7 linked regions of the Homo sapiens genome follow. The protein of the gene in region 6 interacts with the protein of the main gene of each other region in a pairwise test. Each region holds a gene or a part of one and is shown on either strand. Other genes may lie near its edges.

What was found.
Region 1: the proteins of UBQLN4 (region 6) and PTN interact in a two-hybrid assay, tested with the Homo sapiens proteins (2 studies listed by BioGRID and IntAct).
Region 2: the proteins of UBQLN4 (region 6) and MTNR1B interact in a two-hybrid assay, tested with the Homo sapiens proteins (one large-scale study listed by BioGRID and IntAct).
Region 3: the proteins of UBQLN4 (region 6) and ZDHHC3 interact in a two-hybrid assay, tested with the Homo sapiens proteins (one large-scale study listed by BioGRID and IntAct).
Region 4: the proteins of UBQLN4 (region 6) and UBR7 interact in a two-hybrid assay, tested with the Homo sapiens proteins (one large-scale study listed by BioGRID and IntAct).
Region 5: the proteins of UBQLN4 (region 6) and RAI2 interact in binary tests that used the Homo sapiens proteins (3 or more experiments, as listed by UniProt).
Region 7: the proteins of UBQLN4 (region 6) and CCDC134 interact in a two-hybrid assay, tested with the Homo sapiens proteins (one large-scale study listed by BioGRID and IntAct).

The regions. Positions count from the first base shown.
Region 1 is NC_000007.14:137,337,234-137,340,733, forward strand, and holds part of PTN (pleiotrophin isoform 1 precursor), read right to left. Parts: intron 1-3,500.
Region 2 is NC_000011.10:92,972,651-92,976,150, reverse strand, and holds part of MTNR1B (melatonin receptor type 1B), read right to left. Parts: intron 1-3,500.
Region 3 is NC_000003.12:44,924,175-44,927,674, reverse strand, and holds part of ZDHHC3 (palmitoyltransferase ZDHHC3), read left to right. Parts: intron 1-827; coding exon 828-986; 3' UTR 987-3,500. UniProt on the Homo sapiens protein: Golgi-localized palmitoyltransferase that catalyzes the addition of palmitate onto various protein substrates.
Region 4 is NC_000014.9:93,213,756-93,217,255, reverse strand, and holds part of UBR7 (putative E3 ubiquitin-protein ligase UBR7), read right to left. Parts: intron 2,328-3,500; coding exon 2,274-2,327; intron 2,081-2,273; coding exon 1,975-2,080; intron 1-1,974. UniProt on the Homo sapiens protein: E3 ubiquitin-protein ligase which is a component of the N-end rule pathway. Recognizes and binds to proteins bearing specific N-terminal residues that are destabilizing according to the N-end rule, leading to their ubiquitination and subsequent degradation.
Region 5 is NC_000023.11:17,854,799-17,858,298, forward strand, and holds part of RAI2 (retinoic acid-induced protein 2), read right to left. Parts: intron 1-3,500.
Region 6 is NC_000001.11:156,043,799-156,047,298, forward strand, and holds part of UBQLN4 (ubiquilin-4), read right to left. Parts: intron 426-3,500; coding exon 200-425; intron 1-199. UniProt on the Homo sapiens protein: Regulator of protein degradation that mediates the proteasomal targeting of misfolded, mislocalized or accumulated proteins.
Region 7 is NC_000022.11:41,807,179-41,810,678, reverse strand, and holds part of CCDC134 (coiled-coil domain-containing protein 134 isoform 1 precursor), read right to left. Parts: intron 1,805-3,500; 5' UTR 1,789-1,804; coding exon 1,686-1,788; intron 801-1,685; coding exon 679-800; intron 473-678; coding exon 388-472; intron 1-387. UniProt on the Homo sapiens protein: Molecular adapter required to prevent protein hyperglycosylation of HSP90B1: during translation, associates with nascent HSP90B1 and the STT3A catalytic component of the OST-A complex and tethers them to a specialized translocon that forms a microenvironment for HSP90B1 folding.

The sequences.
Region 1 (3,500 bases), on a different chromosome or scaffold from region 6:
ATTTGGGGTTTGACATGAGAGACAAATGGGAGATAAAATCTATTTATTAGCCTAAGAAAGAGATGGCATTATATTACAGAGGAATAAACTCAAACTAGGAATTTTAAGACTTTTGTTTTCATATCTGTATGTCATTGAATATGGCCCCCTTAACTTCTCTAAGCCTGCATTTCTGTATCAATTTTTTAAAAATCCCACTCAATCTACCTGAGTAGAGTTACAAAAATATGATGAAAAAATAAATGTGAAACATTTTTAAAAACAGGCCTTATAGCTACATAGAAGTTATAATGAAAATAATGCTTCAAATTACTAGCTTTGTCACTTTGAATAATATGGTTTGTTAAAGAAGAGGTAAGTAAGGTTTTCTCCATTCTGGAGGTAGTCTTGAATCGGCAACTATGAAAAGTTTAAAATTATCAAGGTGAAATATGATTAGGAAGACACTGTAGAGAACCAGCAAGCCTATATGACATTTGTAATGAAGGGAGTGAAGGAAAGAGAGTGGGAGAAGTTTCTGGAGGTTCAAAGTTGAGAATGGGAATGCTTGGGCTTAAACAGGAAATTGGCACCAGGTTGTTTGGTAAGGCAAGGGGATTAGGCATAGAACACAGATGGTCAAGGTGGGTGGAACAACATGGGCAAAGAGAATGAATGGCATTTAGAGCTGCCTATTTTCTCACTCATTTGCCATCTTCAATGGTTCTATGCTAAATATGCTAGGGTTCTTGAGAGAATGAGAGACAGCCCTTGCCTTAATAGGGTGCACAGGTTGGATGGGGTGGGGCTGGTGTCAAATGGTGAGAAAGGAGGAGCTGAAGTCACTATAAGGGGTGATGGGGAGACTTCGAAGACAAGGGAAGAAATATAGCTCCACCTAGAGGGGGCATTTGCCTTGGAAAACCTTTGGTGCCTTCAATTTCCGACTCAAGATTTCACCCAAATTCCACAGCTGAAGTACAAGGATTTGCCTTCTTTCCCTTCATGTATATGTTTTCATTAAAGGACACTCTTCTCTTCTGGTATAAATTTTCCTGAAAAGGACATCTACAGGGAGTGCCATGTCTTAAAAATTATATTGATTCTAAATAAACTCAGTCTGAATTCTTAAGTTGTCACTTCCAATAATTTGTTTCTGCTACGTTATGTGGCAAATGTGAAATGAAAACACGAAGGAATCAGGAGTTCAATTTCCCTTCCAGAATAAACAGCATTAAAGGAACAAACAGACATAATGCTTTTGAAATAGACGTTGCGTACCATTTAGCCTTTTGTGAGCTCCACTTTCCTTTTTCTCATAAAAATGTGATCCCTTTGTCATTGGAACTGCTTAGGGCAACAATTGTACATATCTTCCTCTAACCTGTGTTGTAGTAATTAGTGTTTTAATGTTCTTACATATATATTGAGTAGATCATTAGCTGCTTGAAGACATATTTATTTGTCCTGTTTCCCTCATCACACTACCTACCATATAGTATGTCAGTCACTATGCGTAAAAGTCTGGTAGGGATAAAAATAAAATAACAGGAAGTCCTTTACTTCAATCTCCTCCTCCAAATAGAATTGTGCCTGAATGATTTCCTTCAGTATTCATTGAAAAAATATTAAAAATGTGAGTCCAGAGCTCATTAGAGAGAATCTTCCTTCAATTCTCTTCAGATCTGAGAATTTTCCTTGTGAAGGAGTTAAAGCTCAAAGAAGAGTTGTGACAATACTAAAGCATTTGGAGAGGAGAGAGGAAGGCGGGAAACTGAAATATTTGGAAATAAATGTACACATTTGGAAGACAAGAAAAAAAAAAGCAAAACAAAACATGAAAAAAGGAGTGCCCAAAGAAATTAGGAAAACATTAAGACAATAACATATCAAGGAGGTTACAGTATGAGATAATCATAAAATGTTGGGATTAGCAATCTGTGACTTTTAAAGCATCTTTTCCAGAGATGGGTGAGGGTATAATGGATTTTAATTGAGATCTCCTTTAAATACATTTCTAATAAAGAATTTCACAAGTTCACACCACGTACCAAACACAAAGTATTAGATATTGTGAAACCATAGAGATAGACACCATGTTCTATTTCTTAAACATGCTACATTGTCCAGCACAATGTAGTATTAGGCATCCAACATACGTACAATAAATATTGTTAAATTGGCTGGCCACAGGAGCAAGAAAAATTGTATTGTTGGAGTAGGACCCCGAGACGATGTGATGGACATGAGTAACTCCAGCTGCGCCTCTACATTGATGTTGGGAAACTGAGAAGAGAATGAGGTCAACATTGCAGTGATGAAAATGTTGCCTGACCCTTAGGCAGGGTCTTGAATCAAAAAAAAAAAAAAAAATGGGGGAAAAATGCCATTGAATCAGTAGAGAGGGCACTGGTGTTGAAAACATCAGCTAGGAAGGTCCAAGCTTCCAAGAATGCCAACATATGGGCAGGCATTCCTGGTACATCCGTACATAGAGAAATGTATGCCATCATAGCAAGAGGGAATTGGGCAAGACGTTCTGGGACCTGTTGGGTGGGAAATAGTGGCAACCAAATTAATGGAGAAATGAGAGAAAAGAAGGAGAAATAGGTAAATGTAAAAGCAGGAAGAAAAGGGAGCAAAGGGTTAGAGACAGAATGCTATTTGTGTTTTAAAATTATGTTTTAGCTTTTGCTAAGAGCAATTCTTAGAATTAAGAGCCCAATTATCAGTTACTATGAGTCACTTTTTTCAAGATTAATATACAGCGCTTGATTTTTTGTTACACTATGTGTGAAGTTGAAAAAAATCTAAGACTTCTATTTTTAGAAAACTGGATATGATTTTTTTCTGTTTGAGATATCACTTTATCTCAACCCACTCTGAAAAAATGGTTCAATAAATAAAGCCTAGAAAAATGAATTAAATTTTATCCCTAAAAATATCTCAAACATGAAGGAGTCATTGTATTCCTTGTCCACCCTGAAGAAATAGAGATTTGTGGTGAATGTGATCTACATAATTAAGTCCACAATATTCCCATATTTATAATACCCTCTGATAGTGTTCCATCATAGCTACCCTTTTAAGATACTGTTTTAATTTCTTATTTACTAAATGCCAAAATAGAAAGAAAAAGAGGTTTGTTATATTTTACAATCTAGAAATATTGTAATGACACCATGAAAACTATGCCGCACACTAGACTGGCTTGAAGTGGATGGAAAAATAGCCCAGTGGGTGGAAACTTGAATTGTCCATAAACATCAGAAGGAAAAACAACTTTCCACGAGGCCATGGCCCAAATTCCACTTAAGCCAATTGACTCTGGATGGAAAAAAGCAAGCCCAGCTCATAAAAAGAAGGTTCATATCTGAGTATCATCTTACTTCGCCTCCCACAGCAGTGACATGACCTTGTGCCAGAAGGAGGCAAAAACTCTTCGACTATTCATTTAGAACAGAAGCCAGAGCTAAAAACATTCCTCACCCTTATGGAGAAGCCCAACTCAACATCACTAG
Region 2 (3,500 bases), on a different chromosome or scaffold from region 6:
AAGACAGGCAAACATTAAAGTCTTTATACCCTTGAGCTACTGAAAGTTACATGGGAGGAATTAAAGAGGATTATTAGCTTTCCTGATTATTCAGCTAAAGACATAATTATGGGATTTAAAAACTGTTCATTTTTGCTCAGTGAAGAGGCAATAAGGTATTCACAGCTGAAATGCAAAGTTGGACAGCTTAAGAAACATTCAGGAAGGAGTCCAAGGTTACCCAGTTTGGTCTTGGGCTGATAATGGCACTCTAAACATTGCAGGCTGAGCAAGTCAAAAGACACCTGATGCCAAGTGACATCTCAATGAGTGGTCGGTGGTAGGATAGAAGCCTTGATGGAGTGGGCTCCACTTCATTCTATAACTTGGAGGGTAGGGGCTGTGGGCCTATTAAGCATTTCACTCTAGGCCTTCCAGAGCCTTTGTTCAGAACCATGCTGCTTATTAAGCATCATTTGCTGTCTCAGTCAACAAGTTGGAAGAGAGGAGGCAAGGAACAGGGGCCACAGTGCAGACTGTTTTCTAATCTAACCGGGGAAGCAAAGCACCTGCATAGGCAGAATATTCCCATCAGGAACCTCCCAGGCAGTTACTGGTTCTGGATAGGAGATGGTGTGAATTCTTAGCATCACTGGGGGCCTGGAGGAGGGGCAGCTTTGCCAGCATAGACAGAGTGACCTTGGACAAAGATCTGTGTGTTCAGCAAGCAAATCCTCCATGTTTTCCTAGGCAATCTTAACATCAAATAGTTCATATATTTCTGCTTTACCAATCATCAACGTACCCCAGAAATGCCAATTCGTGCACTCACTAAACCTCCCAGACAGCCTCTTTAACCCATTTGCAGCACAAAAATCCATTGTCAGACCACAGCTTCTGACTGCTACTTGGAAAATTAAGGTGGCTGTGCCTATGGAGCCAGGAATAACTGGTGTTGTTATGACTTCCTCTCTGATAGTGGAGAGTACTTGGGTGTTACAGTGAGGACATGGTTCTCTCAGCTCTCTTATATGGCCAGCATATTACAGGCAGCTTAAAAGTGGCCACCTCGGGCCAGACCAAGAAAGGGGCTGTATTAGTCTGTTTTCACGCTGCTGATAAAGACATACCCAAGGCCGGGCACAGTGGCTCACACCTGTCATCCCAGCACTTTGGGAGGCTGAGGTGGGTGGATCACCTGAGGTCAGGAGTTTGAGACCAGCCTGACCAACATGGAGAAACACCATCTCTACTAAAAAATACAAAATTAGGCCGGGCGCGGTGGCTCACGCCTGTAATCCCAGCACTTTGGGAGGCCAAGGCGGGCGGATCACGAGGTCAGGAGATCGAGACCATCCTGGCTAACACGGTGAAACCCTGTCTCTACTAAAAATACAAAAAATTAGCCGGGCGAGGTGGCGGTCGCCTGTAGTCCCAGCTACTCGGGAGGCTGAGGCAAGAGAATGGCATGAACCCCAGGGGGCGGAGCTTGCAGTGAGCCGAGATTGCGCTACTGCACTCCAGCCTGGGCGACAGCAAGACTCTGTCTCAGAAAAAAAAAAAATTAGCCAGGTGTGGTGGCTCATGCCTGTAATCCCAGCTACTCAGGAGGCTGAGGCAGGAGAGGTTGCAGTAAGCCGAGATCATGCCATTGCACTCCAGCCTGGGCAACAAGAGTGAAACTCTGTCTCACAAAAAACAACAACAACAAAAGACATACCCAAGGCTGTACAACTTACAAAAGAAAGGTTTCATTGGGCTTACAGTTCTACATGGCTGGGGAAGCCTCCCAATCATGGTGGAAGGCAAGGAAGAGCAAGTCATGTCTTATGTGGCTGGCAGCAGGCAAAGAGAGAGAGCTTGTGCAGGGGAGTTTCTCTTTTTCCATCAGATCTCATGAGACTTATTCACTATTGTGAGAACAGCATGGGAAAGACTTGCTCTCATGATTCAATTACCTCCCACCAGGTCCCTCCCACAACATGTGGGAATTCAAGATGAGACATGGGTAGGGACACAGCCAAAGCATATCAGGGGCAAACTCCCCAAGAGGAATCAGTAGGGTACAACCATGGCATGGCTGGAAACTGCTGAGCAACTTTACTCACACAGGAGAATCACAGAACAAGCATGCCTTCATGCAGAAGGTGCCAATAGTCAGCTTAACATGAGATATACTTTGGGCTGTTCTCAAAGCAGTTCAGTTTCATGAAAACCTGTATTGATTACTTATGCAGTGCTGAGTACTGTAACTGAGGTCTATCCCAGCTCATGGAGCAAAATCAATTAATTTTCCCCCACTACCTGGTGTCTTATCCATTTCCAATTTAATCAGAGATGTGTTCTGTTCTTACTATGTGTCTGGCTCTGTGGACAGAAACTGAATGAAAGTGTCTGCTCTCAGCAGGTACACGGTCCAGCGGGGAGAGACAAAGAACAATAGTACAGTGAGGGGGATGCTGTACTGGGGAGGGCACAGGTATCTTAGAAGCCCAACAAGGGAGACACTTACTATCCCCTTCATGGTATTAATAATCAACATTGATAATCCTTCAGGGGAGTTGGGGAAGGAGTTGAAGGAGGAGCAGCTGTTGACTGGGCAGAAGAGGTAGAGAAAGTACATCAGGGAGTGCAGACCCTTTGGGAAGTAGCAGCAGCTCACTGTGACACTGGTGAGAGGAGGGCAATGAGGCTGTAAGTTAGGTGGGCTAGGCCAGCCGCAAATGGCCGTGGGAGCTGTGCTCTGGAGTTGGACACTGTTCTGGAGATGGAGGGCAGCCACTGAAGACAGGGAAACTCTTGGCAGTGGTAACAGTGGCTGGGGGAGGGAGCAGGAAAAGCTCTCAAGCACTATGGATAGTGTTTGCTCAAGAGATGATGAAGGCATGAAGTGGGGCAGTAAGAATAAGGAGGCAGGAAAGGGAGAAATTGAGAAATAGTGGAAGGTAAAATCATTAGGACATGTGGAATGAAAGAGTAGGAGGAACCAAAGATGACTTTCAGGGCACAGGTATCCGGGAGATGAAGAGAAAAAGGAGATCCAAAAACTAGCACCAGGTTAGCCGAGGGAATGAAAGGTCCCACAGAGGGAGTGGCCCTCAGTGTCACACACAGCACAGAGGAACATTTCCAGAGAATGGCGCCCAGAGGACTGAGGAAGGACGGGAAGCAATGGGGTAGAACCAGTAGATGTCCACAACTACATTAAAATGTCTGGCTGAAAAGGGAGGGAGAGAGGTAGTGATGAAGTTAGGAGGACATGAAGTCAAGAAAAGAGTCTTTTGTTCTTTTAAAACAGGAGACTTTGTGTATCGTGTGTGTGTGTAACATGGAGGAAGTTTCCAGAAGAGAGAAAGGAAGAGCTCAAAAATGCAAGAGATAAATATTAGCGAGGTGTAGCTCAAGGGTCAGGGCAGCAGTGGTGAGCCCAGGAGGGAAAGTTCTCAACGGCTCTCAGTAGAGTCAAAAGTGTGGCAAGTCCCTGGGAAGCACAATCTGACAGGCGTGAGGTGCCAACCCAG
Region 3 (3,500 bases), on a different chromosome or scaffold from region 6:
GTTTTTTCCTGAGACTTAGCAGGGGAAGCAGCGCTGGCTCCGTGACAGCTGCTGCATAGGTCTGCGCCATGCTTCTCCCCAAAGGAGCCACTAGGAGGACCTTTGCCATGCCATGCTGGCTGGCCTGGCCATGCCACCCTCTAACCTGTACTAATCCCTCCTCCTTCCTCCTCTGGTGACTTCTCCCCTCATTCGTGGTCTGTCACTCCTATTCAACCTTCTCAGTTTGTGTCTCACCAGGCCCACTAAGCGGGGTGCTGCTTGATCCCCCAGGCTGGTGAGACACACAACGCCAGAGCAGTCATTTGATTTGTTACTTTTTTTTTGTCTGCAAGGTGGTCATGGTAGCTTCAAACTTCCTAGGAACCTATCCCAAATTAATGGCCATCATTGGTTATGATGATTGCGAGCTCCCCAACAGCTCTGAGGCCTCTCACGCCAAAGCCTTCATAGTACTCCATCCACAGCCCAGCACAGAGTTTCTGAAGAGTGCCTCTGCAGAGCTCAACAAGGGGCCAGGGCTGGAGAGACGCGCTCCTTATCTTAGCGACACACCCCGGCCTGGCATACTTACAAGCAGCAGTTTCTGCGCTGCTGATAGTGCTTCTTTTTCCCTCCCTTCTTGGAGGGACTTGTGAATGAGTGCCCACCAAAAAAAGGAGAAATTTTTTTAGTAACACTTTTTATGAGAAAGATATATTAGGTAGATAGCTTTGTTGCTTTAAAAAGGAAACATTTACTCCATTCACCTGTCGCTGCGGACATCCCTCCCCAGAAACCACAGCAATGCAGTGCTTGACTGAAAGTATGATTGTTCTTGTTTTCAGGGAATAGAACAATTGAAAAAGGAAGAGAGAAGATGGGCTAAAAAAACAAAATGGATGAACATGAAAGCCGTTTTTGGCCACCCCTTCTCTCTAGGCTGGGCCAGCCCCTTTGCCACGCCAGACCAAGGGAAGGCAGACCCGTACCAGTATGTGGTCTGAAGGACCCCGACCGGCATGGCCACTCAGACACAAGTCCACACCACAGCACTACCGTCCCATCCGTTCTCATGAATGTTTAAATCGAAAAAGCAAAACAACTACTCTTAAAACTTTTTTTATGTCTCAAGTAAAATGGCTGAGCATTGCAGAGAAAAAAAAAAGTCCCCACATTTTATTTTTTAAAAACCATCCTTTCGATTTCTTTTGGTGACCGAAGCTGCTCTCTTTTCCTTTTAAAATCACTTCTCTGGCCTCTGGTTTCTCTCTGCTGTCTGTCTGGCATGACTAATGTAGAGGGCGCTGTCTCGCGCTGTGCCCATTCTACTAACTGAGTGAGACATGACGCTGTGCGTGGATGGAATAGTCTGGACACCTGGTGGGGGATGCATGGGAAAGCCAGGAGGGCCCTGACCTCCCACTGCCCAGGAGGCAGTGGCGGGCTCCCCGATGGGACATAAAACCTCACCGAAGATGGATGCTTACCCCTTGAGGCCTGAGAAGGGCAGGATCAGAAGGGACCTTGGCACAGCGACCTCATCCCCCAAGTGGACACGGTTTGCCTGCTAACTCGCAAAGCAATTGCCTGCCTTGTACTTTATGGGCTTGGGGTGTGTAGAATGATTTTGCGGGGGAGTGGGGAGAAAGATGAAAGAGGTCTTATTTGTATTCTGAATCAGCAATTATATTCCCTGTGATTATTTGGAAGAGTGTGTAGGAAAGACGTTTTTCCAGTTCAAAATGCCTTATACAATCAAGAGGAAAAAAAATTACACAATTTCAGGCAAGCTACGTTTTCCTTTGTTTCATCTGCTTCCTCTCTCACCACCCCATCTCCCTCTCTTCCCCAGCAAGATGTCAATTAAGCAGTGTGAATTCTGACTGCAATAGGCACCAGTGCCCAACACATACAGCCCCACCATCATCCCCTTCTCATTTTATAAACCTCAAAGTGGATTCACTTTCTGATAGTTAACCCCCATAAATGTGCACGTACCTGTGTCTTATCTATATTTTAACCTGGGAGACTGTTGTCCTGGCATGGAGATGACCATGATGCTGGGGTTACCTCACAGTCCCCACCCTTTCAAAGTTGACATATGGCCATCCCATTGGCCAGAATCCACAGACACACCTAAGCCTGTGGCACTGGGACAGAATAGATTTTCCATTTGAGAGGCACTTCCTGTGTCAGTCTTGTTTGAAGGAGGTGGTGATGGTGGATAGAGGTGAAGGAGGTAGGGAGTGCCCTCCAAGTGCAAAAATAACAAATATGATTATTGACCATCGGGGAATTCTCACACATTGATTTGTTTTTTAAGCAATTGCCAGAAACCCCCTTTTTTAGCTTTTGCTTGGGGTGGGGGTAGGAGTTAAGGTTTATTCAATCCTGTCCTGGGTAGGGCGAAAGTTAATCTAGCCATGTGATTTTTCAGAAAAGTAAGTGGAACATGCTGCCACTTTTCAATTCTGTCAGTGCTTCCACATGGAAACAAAATGCAATAAAATTTTTCCAAAACCTGTTCTGATTTAGCTCTCTCTTGAGGTGTTACCCTTAGTGGGAGGCCGACTATCCACAATCTACTTGAGTTTTCTCTGGTTGGGTGTTTGTTTCATTGCTCTGTCTCTTGAATGAGGATACTTTATTTTTTTTGTTTTAAAATGCATTTATGGTCCCTCTCTTGAACCAGCTTGCCCCACCAGGCCTCTTTCCTTTGCTTTCTGCAGCCTGAATCAATTCCTTTGTGCTGATGGGCTCTCCTAAGAGCTTTCCTGAGTCAGTTAACTTTACCTCGTGTCTACGGTGCTATTCATGCGATACGGGCGAGGCTGAGATGCTAAGATTAAAAAGAAAAGAATGCTGTTTTAGATCAAGTTGATAGCATTTGTTTTCCATATGCTTTTTTAAAATTTTTTCATAACATACAGCTCAGTTAGGTGTATGAAAGAAGTGTTATTGTATTAAATAACTAGAGCAGGGCTACAGCTCTGGCCCTCCCCTAGGGGGAAGAGATTGGTAATACTCCATCTTCCAGGGCATTTTTTAAAGTGAGCCAGGTTAGCTCTTTTCCCCTGGCATTTCTCAGGAATGCAGTAGATAGTGCTGAAGATGCACTGACTTTTTTTTAGTCCTAAAAATAGAAACTCCTCCTTTAAAGCTGTGCATACTATGCTTATCTTTCCAATAGAGTGGGGTTCCTTCAGATATCCTATAGGATTCTGCCTCTGGTTTTGTATAGGCCTTGGCTAGAAAGAGTCAATGTTTCTGAGCTCTCAAACCAGTTGCTCTCAGAAGATAGGAATACCCCAAGGTTCCTGGCATTTTTCCTATTTCATTTTTGTTCAGACTGATATTTTGCCAAGAGCACAATGACTGAGGAATGTAGCCATCATTTGCAGGGTAGTGATTGGTTCCCAGCCTGGCTTCCACACAGGACAGGAAGGGAAAGCATCCCTGAGCTCTCCTCAGTATTTCCGGATGTAATGAAAGAGGACATCTTTCTACACAAAGTCAGC
Region 4 (3,500 bases), on a different chromosome or scaffold from region 6:
CAGGAGTTCGAGACCAGCCTGGCCAACATGGTGAAACCCCTTCTCTACTAAAAATAGAAGAATTAGCTAGGCATGCTGGTGCATGCCTGTAATCCCAGCTACTTGGGAGGCTGAGGCAGGAGAATTGCCTGAACCCAGGAGGCATAGGTTACAGTGAGCAGAGATTGTGCCACTGCACTCCAGCCTGGGCAACAGAGCAAGATTCCGTCTTGAAAAAACAAAAAAACCCAATGAATGAGAACTACACATAGATAGGTTCAGCATCTGTGGACAGTGAGAGAGATCACTGGAAAGGGTGTGAACAGAAAGGGAGCAGCACTTAAGAACTCTGAGGCAAACTGGCCGGGCGTGGTGGCTCATGCCTGTAATCCCAGCACTTTGGGAGACCGAGGCGGGTGGATCACTTGACATCAGGAGTTTGAGACCAGCCTGGCCAACATGGTAAAAGCCTTGTCTCTACTAAAAATACAAAAATTTGCCAGGTGTGGTGGCATGTGCCTGTAGTCCCAGCTACTCTGGAAGCCGCGTCACAAGAATCGCTTGAACCCAGGAGGCAAGGTTGAGGTGAGCCGAGATAGCACCACTGTACTCCAGCCTGGATAACACAGTGAGACTCTGTCTCAAAAAAAAAAAAAAGGCAGAAAAACAAAAGAACTCTAAGGCAAATCTAAACTGTAGGATGAGATCAGAGGTATGGCTATGCTGCTCATGGTTTGTATGGTGAACTGGTCTCTAAAGATGAGAAAGGCAAGAAATTATGAAGCCTAAGCAGCAGATACCATGAGTAACTGCCACCTTAAAAATAAAGAAATACATAAAGCATTACCAATAAGATAGTTAATGCCTCAGGACCATTCATTAATTAGTTGTTTTGATTTAATTTCTTAGTGTATAATAAAAGCACCAGATAGACTGGGCATGGTGGCTCATGCCTGTAATCCCAGCAGTCTGGGAAGCCAAGATGAGTGGATCACTTGAGCTCAGGAGTTCAAGACCAGCCTGGGCAACATGGTGAAACACTGTCTCTACAGAAAATACAAAATTAGCAGGGCATGGTAGTGTGTGCCTGTAGTCCACTTTTATAAAGGCACTAATCCCATTCACGAGGGCTCTGACTTATAAAAGAGGCCCAAGCGAGCTTGTTTGCCCCTTTTAACAGGTACGGACACGTAGAAGGATCTGTCTATGAGGAATGGGCCCTCAACCAAACACTGACTCTGCGGGCACCTGAATTTTGGACTTCCCAGTCTCCAGAACTGTGAGAAATATCTGTCTATTGTTTATAAATTACCCAGCCTAAGGTATTTTGTTTTAGCACCCCAGACAGACTAAGACACCACCTCCTCCCCAACTGATACCATGTGTTAGAATTAACAACTTATTTCAGTTCTATTTATCTTTCAAAATCCCATTCAAAAACTGCCTCCTCCATTCTCTAACTCTGGTCTCATCAATACTCTGCATCATATCATTTAAGTATAAATTTGTTTTTGGTAGTATCCCAACAAATCTATGCACCTTGTGGAGAAAGAACACATACTATTCTTTTTTTTTTTTTTTTTTTTTGAGGATGGAGTCTTGTTCTATTGCCCAGGCTGGACTGCAGTGACGTGATCTCGGCTCACTGCAACCTCTGCCTCCTGGGTTCAAGTGATTCTCCTGCCTCAGCCTCTGGAGTAGCTGGGATTACAGGCAAGCGCCGTGACGCCAGGCTAATTTTCATATTTTTAGTAGAGATGGGGTTTCGCCATGTTGGCCAGGCTGGTCTCGAACTCCTGACCTCAGGTGATCCATCTGTCTTGTTGGCCTCCCAAAGTGCTGGGATTACAGGCGTGAGCCACCATGCCTGGCCAGAACATATACTATTTTATAACCACAGAGCCCAGTTAAAAATAGTTGCTAAAAATTCTGAATTGAACATACAAATTTCACAAGCACAAGTTTGTGGCACACCAACTTCACAAAGATACCTACCTGCCAATTGTGCAGCATAAGCCCACAAAAAAGAACAACGTTTCATGCAGGCCTGGCATACCATCTCCTGAAAATCCCCACTCTCAGGGGGAATGGCACCAAGATGCTGTGAATATAGAACACCAAAAATTTTCTTGTGATTGCCAAATTGTCCAAAATGCCCATTATTTTATAAATACTGTAATAATACACTGATCATATCATTAGAATTTATTTTTAGAAGACTAATTATAATGTAAAATATAACCTTTATCTTTTTGTGACAACAATGGTTTCAAAAGGTGGAACATTTTCCTTACCCTTCCATGGAACCAGTCTTCACAGACTACGCACTGGATCATCTCATCTGGAATCTAACAGAGAAAAGCAGTTTGTTAAGGATTACATTGAATTCGGGAACATGGAAATAACCTGGCACACAGTAAAATAAGATACTAAATATTTGTTCTACATGAACTGGTGTTCCAAAGGCTTACATTGAGATAAGCACTTTACAAACAATCTCAAGGCTCTTTCACATCCATTACTTAATATCTGATTCTCACAAAACTGTGTAGACAAGGAGGGCATTCCCATTTTATACAAAACTCAGGCCCAGGCAAGTAATGTGAATGGACCAGTGCAGACAGTGACAACTGGGACTTTTTACCACACCATCCTTTAATACAATATTCAGTTGTATTACTGTATAAGGATGTTCACTCCAGCCTTCTTTATAATATTGAAAAATTAGACAATGCCTTTCTGCTGCAGAAGAACCATCCTGCCAAGTACACTGAAAAGTAAATGTTATGAAAAACCTCGATAGATAACTCCTCTAATTTGAATAAATTAAATAATTAAATGCTGGCCCTAGGAAAATAATATACCAAAGGACATAGACTATTTTGGGGATGATTTTCTTTTACTCCCAGGCTCTCATAACTGTTAATTAACATCCCAATGTTGTTCTGTCCTTTTCCTATCGTAGGCTTCTTAAAGGGAATAAAAAAGCACATATTGTGGAACAGGAGGAGCTGTAACACTTTACCACATGCCTTAAAATATCCAGTTTTGGCTGGGCGTGGTGGCTCACGCCTATAATCCCAGCACTTTGGAAGGCCAAGGTGGGTGGATCGCCTGAGGTCAGAAGTTTAAGACTAGCCTGGCCAACATGCTGAAATCCTGTCTCTACTAAAAATACACAAATTAGCCGGGCATGGTGGCGAGTGCCTGTAATCCCAGCTACTCAGGAGGCTGAGGCAGAAGAATCGCTTGGACCTGGGAGGCAGAGGTTGCAGTGAGCTGAGATCGCACTACTGTACTCCAGCCTGGGTGACAGAGCGAAACTCCGTCTTAAAAAAAAGAAAAAAAAAATCCAGTTTTAAGGTTTTATTTTTGTTAACTCAAAGAGACTTTCAATCTGTCCCTCTATATAATTTGGTTCAATAATTATAGTTCCAACGCAATTAGAAAGCAAGGAAGAAGGCAGAAGACTAATATCTCTAAAGACAAAAAGTACTCTTTCAAATCGGTAAATACCCAGA
Region 5 (3,500 bases), on a different chromosome or scaffold from region 6:
CTCCAGTAAACAGTCTGCTTCTGCCATGTGAAACAAAACCAACTCCTTCTGAGGAGCCCAAGGGGGTCAGCCAAGGGTCCCCTGTGAGGGCAGCCCCCTCAGGAGCCAGAGCCACAGGCGCCTGACCTGTAAATCACTGCAGTCCCAAGTTCATTATCCCATCCCTTTCCGTCTATTTATGCCATGACCAGTGCCTAGGGAAGGACCCAGAAATGATGTGATGTGATGATACCATAGTGCCAGCCAAAATCCTTCTTCTACCTCCCTGAACTCTCCTTTGGCCAGGTTTCTTCATCTGCTGTGCTATGGTTGTGTGAAATTGACCTTCCTTGCATTTATTCTGTCTCCCTCGCAGAAATTTTATTTATGTCCTTGCTCTTGTTCTCATCAAGCTGTCAGGAAATGACAGTGTGCATTCTCTTTTTTATTTTCTCTCCTTTAAGGCTGGCCCTGGCCCTAAATAACCCACTGTCAGCATGAGGGTGTCTACTGGCGACATTACTCTCCAAGCACAAATCCCTGGGATGGATAGTACTTTAAGCTGCTACTAGAGCAGGTGTCAAGGAATTCTCCGATGGACAAGGACACCGGCCTGTGGGGTGGGTGGGGTCGAGGAAAGGAAAGAGCCATTTCATTCAAGCCAGTCCTGCCTGTGCCCATTCTATTGGGTTTCTGGGTCCCACATTCCTCATAGAGCATGAGACTGAGCCAACATGCTCATGGCTAGTTTCCACGGGGAACCTCCATCATGGCACCTGAGCTACTGAAAATCAAAATCGCTTGATGCCAGGCTGCTGTGGCTACTGACTCAGCCCCCTGCCTCCCACCTGCCATCGAGATGGAGAGCGTTTATGTCCCCAGAACATCTGGAGGCTGAAGTCACGAGGTTGGTTAGTTTGCTCCAGAGCAGCTCTGTCTAATAGAAATGTTTATGTAATTTAAATTTTTTTTGTAGTCACATTTAAAAAAATAAAAGAAGCCACTAATTTTAATACTCTATCATATTTAACTAATATATTCAAAATATTATCATTTTACCATGTAATCAATGCAAAGCTTATTAATGAGCTATTTTGGATTCTTTTTTTGTATTAAGTCACAGAAATCCCATGCATCTGTTATATTTAATGCACATCCTAATTTGGACCAACCACTTTTCAAGCACTCTATGGCTGCATGTGGCTAGTGGCTAGTGTGTGGGACAGTGCAAACATGTGACATTTCCATCATCATAGAAAGTTTTATTAGACAGTGCTGTGCTGGAAGACCAAAAAGTTGTGGGAAGAGGAGTGACAGGTGTGAGCAGAGTGTGCTCCAAAGTTCTCTAGAATTACTGAGTTGTTGGAGCTAATTACAGCAGAAATTGGAATTACAAGGATTGGGATGTTCAAGGAGCCCAGCCCTATGTCTCAGTAGAGATTAAAATGGGCTTTTATGAAAGGCCCTGGGACCATGCATAGTCTGAATGTGTCTGTCCCCTCCAAACTCCTGTGTTGAAATCCTAATCCCCAACGTGATGGTATTAAGAGGTGGGGCATTTGGTTGGTGATTAGGTCGTGAGAGTGGAGCCTTCATGAATGGGATGAGTGCCCTTGTAAAAGAAGCCCCAGAGAGGTCACTTGCCCCTTCTACCATGTGAGGGCACAGCAAGAAGATGCCATCTCTGAACCAGGAAAAAAGCCCTCACCAGACACTGAATCTGCCGGTATCTTGATCTTTGACTTCCCATCCTCCAGAACGGTGAGAAATATGTTTCTATCATTTATAAGTCACCCAGCCTATGGGATTTTGTTATAGCAGCCCAGACGGATGAAGGCAGACCATGCCCATGTTTTGCGGTGCTGCCCCACAGCAGTGGGAAGGCCAGCAAGTATGATCATGGCTCAAGACATCTGCTGGCTAAGCTGCCTCCATCTTAGCTGTTCTGGTCTGTTCAGGGCAGGGGCTGGGAGAGAACACCAAAGTCACATACTTCTTCCAATAACAATTCTGGGTTTGAATCTAATTTGGTGAAGCAGATACAGAAACGTGATCAAATTATGTGTGCCTGTGTCTGTGTGTGCATGTGTGTTCGTGTGTGTGTTCTTGGCAGGAGAGAGGAGGGTCATGTGTGAACTCCAGAAGTACTAACCTGGCCGCCAAAATCAGCTTCTCACCAGCTGCCATCAGAGGACAGTGAAGTGGCAGACTCAAGAGGCTCATCAACATTGTGAGCCATGAAGGAAAGGCTTTGAGTCTGGAAAGAATGAGATGATGGGCACCCGGGCAGACGATCAGGTGGGAGGGAGAAGTGGTAATCAGAGGCATTCTCCAAAGACAAGAGCTGCCAACTCTACAGCAAGGATGTCACCCTGATCCCCAAATCAAGCTTAATTCAGAATCCCACGCAGGCTTTTGTGTGTGGGAAGAGTGCAATTAGCCATCTTTCCCCCTCATTCTCTGAGGTCTCCCTCATATTCTGTTCAGGGAGGCAGCATTGAGGAGCTCCTCATACATAGATTCAAAGCCCAGCTCCCTCGGTGGCTCCAGAATTTCTAGGAGTTTGAAGACTACCACCTGGTTGGAAGGGGGCTACGGGGCTTGCTTTAACGATACATTTGCATAGCAAGTTCCCTCCTCATTTTCCTATAGAGTGTTTGTTTATTTGAGACAGTTTCTAGTTAAAAATACCTCACCCAGCCTTTGGTCCCTCGTGGACTTTGAGTTAGTTGCTTAACCTTTCTGAGCCTTAGTTTCCTCACCTACAAGATGGGAATAATCTTGCCCATCTCCCATGGATTTTGTAAAGATTAAACTGGGGCTTGTCAGCATGGAGCTACCAAGGGCTAAAACTGGAATATGACACCAGGAACTTCAGGCCCCCAACCAAACGTACAAATCTCTGGATCTCTCCTTGCTGGGTCTCCCTTAACAATGATCTACAGCCCCCTCCCCACTGCCATTCACTCCATCAGTGCCATCATTTAGTCACTCAACTCTCATTTATTAAGCAACAGTTGGGTGGTGGGGACTCCAAGATGAAAGGGTACAGTCTGTCCATCTGACACAGGGTATTTCGGATCTATCTACTTGGCACATAAGTATGCACTGTGGGTGACTGGGTTGCCCACTGGTGGGCTTCCACCTTCCCCCCAATCCCCACCAACTGTGTACCAGATTTTGCCAAGGTGGAGGGGCTGAAAGATCCAGCAGGAAGAGATCCAGAGATTTGTATGTTTGGTTAGGGGCCTGGAGTTCCTGGTGTCATACTCCAGTTTTAGTCCTTCGTGGTTCCATGCTGACGTGTCCCACTTTAATCTTTACAACGTCTATGTGAGATGGGAAAGATTATTCCCATCTTGTAGGTAAGGAAACTGAGGTTCAGACAGGTTAAGAGAAATAAATAAGAGACCTGGAGCAGGGGAATAGGGACATGTTGCCCCTTTAAATCATAACCACCAAAGTCTGAAATCAGATACACAACTGGAAATTTATCTGAGCCTCAGATTCCTTATCTGTAA
Region 6 (3,500 bases):
AGGTCACTCCTAGGGATATCAGGACATGGCCAGAACCAGCCCTCACCCGGCCACTATCCCAGACGGCAGAGCCCCCTCTGTGGCCTCGATAGTCTCACCTCTGTCTTCAAAATCCTGGAGCAGTATGAACCCCATTCAGTCCTGGGACAGAGGGGCTGCCCTGGTGACCCCACTAAGCTCCTTCCATCCTAGGACATACCTGACCCCAGGCTAGCCGCATTGATCCCAAAGGGGTTCGAGACTGTCGGGTGCACCTGGCTGGTCCCCGATCCTCCGGTGCCCTCCCCACCGGACCCGGGGGCCTGGGAGGTGGGGGGCGAGGGGCTCCAGGGGTTAGGGAGGGGCTCTCGATTCTCAGTCCGCAGAGGCTGGGAGGATGAGCTGTCGGAGTTCCCGGCCAGGGAAGAGAAGGGATTGTTGCCAAACTGGGAGGAGGGAAAGGTTTTGGGTTAAGGACTGAAACAAATCAGGGACAAGGGCTAGGCCCATTCTCTCCTCTCACTTAATAGCCTCCCCTTCCCCAGAAAAGGGAGAGAGATCTAAGACCTTAGAGGTCCTCAGTTCAGTTCTTTGCCCCACAATGGATAGCTCCTTCCTTGCTCCATAGGGTGGGAGCTAGCTGATGCTAGTGACTGGATAACTGAACCTCTCAGATAATTGGAAACTTCCCATCCCCCCGGTGGCTTTCAATATTTGGTCTCTAATCATCTCCTATGTAACCCACCGCACTTTACACACAGTTTTCCCATTGTGTAGCCAAATATTTGTGTTCCTGTACCTCAAGGGGCAGAGGCAATGTCAGATTTGCCTGTGCACCCCCAGCCCCGACACTAGTAGGTGCTCAATAACTAACTACTGGCTTAATGGGAGTGGGCTGTCAAACCTGGCTCTCTACTTGAACCCCGATCTTCCCTTTCCCCAGCCTCCTTGGACTAATCCTAACTCCCCAGAACCTTTCCCTCACTCCCCAGGTCCCCTACCTGGCATTCTCTGTCCATCCAGGCACACCACAGTGGCGGCCCCTAGCAGAACACACCTCCAGCAGAATATGCCCTCTCTAGGTTTTCCCCTCCTGCTCCAAACCCTACCTCTACACACTGGCTACTTCAGATGGACAGGCCTCAGTTTACTTCTGGTCCCCCTTGCCCTACCATGCTCCTCACTGTGCTCCCCAGGATATCTCAGGTCCATACCCCATGGGATGGTGTGCTTCCCAAAGGCAACACCGGAACCTCCTCCCCTCCAGCACCTAGCACAGAGCTCTGGCTGAGGGAGTCCCAGACTCAGTTTTCCCTACTCAGCCTTTCTTGTGGTCTAAGAGCTCAGCAGCTCTCTTTCCTGAGTTCCCAGGTGGTCCTACCTCAGCCCCTCCCCACCGTAGGGTTTCATATTGAGCTGCTTTTCCTGTTCATTGAAAGTGGGTCATGGGGACCGGGGCTAACCAAGGATTCTCCTACTCTGAGCTGTTTCCTTCACCTCACCAGATCCTGTTCAGATAACAGAGCTCACAGGCCAGGGTTCATGCACCATGGTTTCAGCCTCTGTGCCTGTTTCAGATTTCTTGTTCTGATACTTGCCTAGCACCTCACCCCACCTTGTTCTGGGCTCGCTTTATTCTTCCTGGTACACTCTAAGGACGAAATCTCTTTTCCTGAACTACCCACAGTGATAACAACCATCATTTATTGAGCACCTACTATGTGCCTGACACATTTATTCTAATGCTTATAATACTCCTCTAATACAACAGTTCTCAAAGTGTGGTCCTGGGACCCCTGCAAGCATTAAAACTGTTTTCATAATTCTAAGACATGAATTTGTCTTTTTCACTCTTATTCTCTCATGAGGATACAGTGGAGTTTTCCAAAGTCTACATGACATGTGACATTGCAAACTGAATGCAGATCTGAGAACCAGCTGTCTTGTAGTAAGCTAGACATCAAAGAGAACTACAAAAATGTAAAACAAGTCCATACTTTCCTCTACAGTTTTGTTTGTTTTGGAAAATAAAGTTATTTTTCAAAATAATGTTATTTATGTTAACTTGTAATAATTTTTTTTTTTTGAGATGGAGTCTCGTTTTGCTGCCCAGGTTGGAGTGCAAAGGCACAATCTCGGCTCACTGCAACCTCCACCTCCAGGGTTCAAGCAATTCTCTTGCCTCAGCCTCCTGAGAAGCTGGGATGACAGGCACCCACCACCACACCTGGCTAAGTTTTGTATTTTTAGTAGAGATGGGGTTTCGCCATGTTGGCCAGGCTGGTCTCAAACTCCTGACCTCAGGTGATCCACCTGCCTCAGCCTCCCAAAATGCTGAGATTATAGGCATGCGCCACTACGCTCCACCAACTTGTAATAAATTGTCATTTTTAAATGAAACAAATATTTTAAAAGTTTGTCAGTTTTAGGCCGGGCACGGTGGCTCACGCCTATAATCCCAGCACTTTGGGAGGCCGAGGTGGGTGGATCACCTGAGGTCAGGAGTTCGAGACCAGCCTGGCCAACATGGTGAAACCCCGTCTCTACTAATAATACAAAAAAAAAAAAAAAATAGCTGGGCATGGTGGCGGGCGCCTGTGGTCCCAGCTACTCGGGAGGCTGAGGCAGGAGAATCACTTGAACCCGGGAGGCGGAGGTTGCAGTGAGCTGAGATCACGCCATTGCACTCCAGCCTGGGCAACGAGTGAAACTTCGTCTCAAAAAAACAAAACAAACCAAAAACACAAAACATTTTTAAAGGTTGTATTAAAAAAAAAAAAAGCAGCCAAGTGCAGTGGCTCACACCTGTAATCCCAGCACTTTGGGAGGCCGAGGCAGGCAGATGACAAGGTCAGGAGTTCGAGACCAGCCTGGCCAATATGGTGAAACCCTGTGTCTGCTAAAAAATACAAAACTTAGCCAGGCGTGGTGGTGCAAGCCTGCAGTCCCGGCTACTCAGAAAGCTGAGGCAGGAGACTCGCTTGAACCCAGGAGGTGGAGGTTGCAGTGAGCTGAGATCGCGCCATTGCACTCCAGCCTGGGCGAAACAGTGAGACTCTGTCTCAAAACAAAAGCAAGTTAAAATAATAAGACCAGCATGGTACCACCTCATATTTAAAAATATGATAATATATAGACGTTTATAGACATATACATAGGTAATAAAAGAATCAGAATGATAAACCCCAACTTCAACTTCAGCATACTAGTTACCTCTGGAAAGAAAAAGAATAGGAGAGGGGAGGGGTTTGTAAAGGCTACAACTCTACCTATGTCTTATTTGCAAATATTAAATATGTCTAGGAAAATAAACAAGATACTAACAACATTAGTTACCACTGAGGTAGAAAAGAGCTGGCTGGGAGATGGAAACAGAGGGATCCCTTCTGTAAACCTTTTTTTAGCCTGTATACTTTTCCATACTTTTTTGGAATACCCTTTTGTTTACTTTGTGTAACTTGTGAATTTTTTTTTTTTTTTTTTTGAGATGGAGTCTCACTCTGTCGCCCAGGCTAGAGTGC
Region 7 (3,500 bases), on a different chromosome or scaffold from region 6:
ATTAAGAATACAAAAACTAGCTGGGTGTGGCGGCATGTGCCTGTAGTCCCAGCTACTTGGGAGGCTGAGGCAGGAGAATCACTTGTACGCGGGAAGTGGAGGTTGCAGTGAGCCGAGATCACACCACTGTACTCCAGCCTGGCGACAGAGTGAGACTCTGTCTCAAAAAAAAAAAAAAAAAAAAAAAAAGAAATGCTATTGCTAAAAAGTAGCCAGTTAATTAGGGAGGCCACTCACGAAACGCCCATCTGCCCAAGGGGACCACTTAGAAGGTGCCACAAGAGGGCACTTCCGGGGAGAAAAAAAGAGTGACAAGAACAGGAGAGAAGGAGCAGCTAGAGAAGATCGGGTGGTGCGGAGGACAGGGCGGGGCAGGGCAGACCATACCATCCTTCAGCTTCTCGTCCTGGGGGAAGGGCCCATCTGGGAGCACATCAGCAGCGGTGAGCACTGTCCGGGAGTCCTCCAGCACCTGAGGGAATCCCGCCAGGGCTGAGTGGCTTCGCAGTGCCCATCACAGACTGCTCCCATCCCCATTTATTTAAACCCCACTTCAAGTCTTACGTGTGCGCAGTTCCCCTGTCCCTGAACACCAACCCGTTAGGGAACTCCTGTTTACCCATCAGTGCCTAGATCAAAGACTGGACCTGCCATGAGCTGCCCCCTGCCTGCACACACCTTAAAGAGCCCCTTGAGCATGACATCAAGGATCTTGTACTGCTGGTGGATGTCGTTCAGCTGTGCCAGGTTCTTCAGTGCCAACAGCTGCTCCCGCCGCTTCACCTCAAACATCTTCTTGTCTGGGCAGAATTAAGTTAAGGGGCTGGCATCAATAGCCCTGCCTGGACAATCCAGCAGTCTTGCCTCAGAAGGCTCATTCCTGACCAGCAAGTATCTGCAAGGGCCATGGACACCCAGGGCTAGAAGCCTCCAGGAAATGAACAAACTGACAAGTGCATGGACCTGCAACGCACTATTCATCCAGTTCCCATGGCGCTCCACACCCAGAAGCCTGAAACCAAGCCTCCAGACCTGGCTCCTGCCTTCCCTTTGCTGTGGTCTTCCTGCCGTCTCCACAAGCATTCTACTGTTCCAGAGCCTCCACCTCTCTGCTCGCGCTGCACCCTCTCTGCCCAGGATGCCCCTCACCCTCCTCTAGGAGTTTCTTTCCTTTCAAGGCCTGGCTCAAAAACCATCACACAGTGTTTCTCCCTGACCCCTCCTGTGCCCATCAGAGCACTGGTCACAGAGTAACATGATCATTTGTTTGGATACTTTCTCCCCCTGGGCTTATGGACACCTCAAAGCCAGGGGACTTGTTGTAATTCATCTTCGTGTCCTTGAGGCCTGGCCTGGAGCAGGTGGCCCAGTTCACCAGGGTCCAGATGGGCCAGTAATCCAGAATTCCTGAGTCTCCACCCAGGATCTTGCCCACAAGGTGCCAGGCCATGCACAGTCCTCACTGAGCCTTTGCAGTCTAGAGATGGGCCTTGTCATCTCCATTTACCATACGCGGAAGCTGAAGCTCCGGAGAGACCTGACTTGCTCAAGGTCTGGCTAGAGCACCTCACCTTTTCTCCCTGTTCCCGCCAGCTGGGCCTGCTTATCCCTGGAATCCCTGAGTAGAAGAACCTCATTTATAGACCTCTCAAAGACAGCTCATTAACTACAACCCCAAAGGATACAGATCTCCAGGCTTGGGTCCAGGGAGGTCCTCAAGGTGCCTGTGGCTCCCATCCCAGACAAAAGCAGGACAAAGAGGAAGGCCAGGAATTGAAGAAGGTCCATATCCAAACCTCTTGAGCTGGAAGAATAACCCAAAGAAAGAGAGTGAGACTCAGAGATCGGTGTTACATAAAATAGAGTGCACAGGTGAACAGCAGCTTCCCCCGACATAGTGCAGCCTCTGTATACCAAGAACCCAGCTTTGGGGAGCCCTGAAGCTGCAGCTCTTATCCCAGGGCCAGCAGGCACACAATACAGAGCCGTGGGATGCTAGGAGGTGGGGAGAAAGATAAGTGTGTGTAACACAGGAACACTTAGAGCACAGGGTCAGTGGCTAGAGCTCTAGGCTGGAGCCCTGCCCCCGCCCGTCTCTGGGACCTCGAGCAGCTTGCCCAGCCTTTCTGAGCCTCAGCCTTCTCAGCTGTAGAACAGGGATAAGGAGGTCACCTCCCTGCTGCAGGGAGGGAGGTCTGGGTGAGGCACTGTGCCTGGGGAGGAGGGGCTCGTCAACAGTATTCCTTCCACATCCCCTATCCTGGTCTCCCAGGAAAGCATCTGGTCAAGGAAGCCCAGGCAGAGAAGATATGAAACTTCTGGAGTTTTCCTCCTTCCTTGACTTTTGTCATCAGAAAGTAAGAAGGGACAAAGGGCAGGGAGGAAGGCAGGGCAGTCTCGGGGTAAGGGGGCTTGCTACTCACTCACTTTGGAACCATAGGTACTACATAGAATACCTGTTCATATTCAGGCAACATGCAACAATTATTTATTTATTTTAATTTAATTTTTTTTTTTTAAGATGGAGTTTCACTCTTGTTGCTCAGGCTGGAGTGGAATGGCGCAATCTCGGCTCACTGCAACCTCCACCTCCCGGGTTCAAGCGATTCTCCTGCCTCGGCCTCCTGAGTAGCTGGGATTACACGCATGCGCCACCATGCCCAGCTAATTCTGTATTTTCAGTAGAGACGGGGTTTCTCCATATTGGCCAGGCTGGTCTCGAACTCCCAACCTCAGGTGATCCGCCTGCCTTGTCCTCCCAAAGTGCTGGGATTCAGATGTGAGCCACCGCGCCCGGCCCTTTTTATTTATTTTTTCCTTAGTAGAGATGAGGTCTTGCTATATTGCCCAGGCTGGTCTCCAACTCCTGAGCTCAAGAGATCCTCTCGCCCCAGCCTCCCAAATACTGGGATTACAGGCGTGAGCCACTATGCCCAGCCAACACAATTATTTATTGAGCACTGTGAAGTTCACTTTCCTGGTGATTCCCAGGACATACATTGCTGCCTTCCACCCTTCCTCTTTCTCCCCTTGAAAGGATGCATCTTTTCACTTGGCTGGGGTGGTAATTCTCTTAAATGTTTTTTGTTAGTTCCTGTAATTTTTTTTTTTTTTTTTGAGACAGGGTCCTGCTCTGCTGCCCAGGCTGGAGTGCAGTGGCACAGTCATGGCTCATTGCAGCCTCCACTTCCCAGGCTCAAGCCATCCTCCCACCTCAGCCTCCTGAATAGCTGGCACTACAGGTGCATGCCGCCATGCACGGCTATTTTTTGTATTTTTCTTAGACGTGGGTTTTGCTACATTGCCCAGGCTAGTCTTGAACTCCTGGGCTCAAGTGATCCACCCATCTTGGCCTCCCAAAGTACTGGGATACAGGTGTGAGTCACTGCACCCGGCTACTATAGCTTTTTTCTCTGGTTCTAACTCTGCTGTTACGGCCTGACACTCAAATATTCTGTCTTGAGGGCCTAGAAAAACAATGTTTTCCTCTAGTATAACTT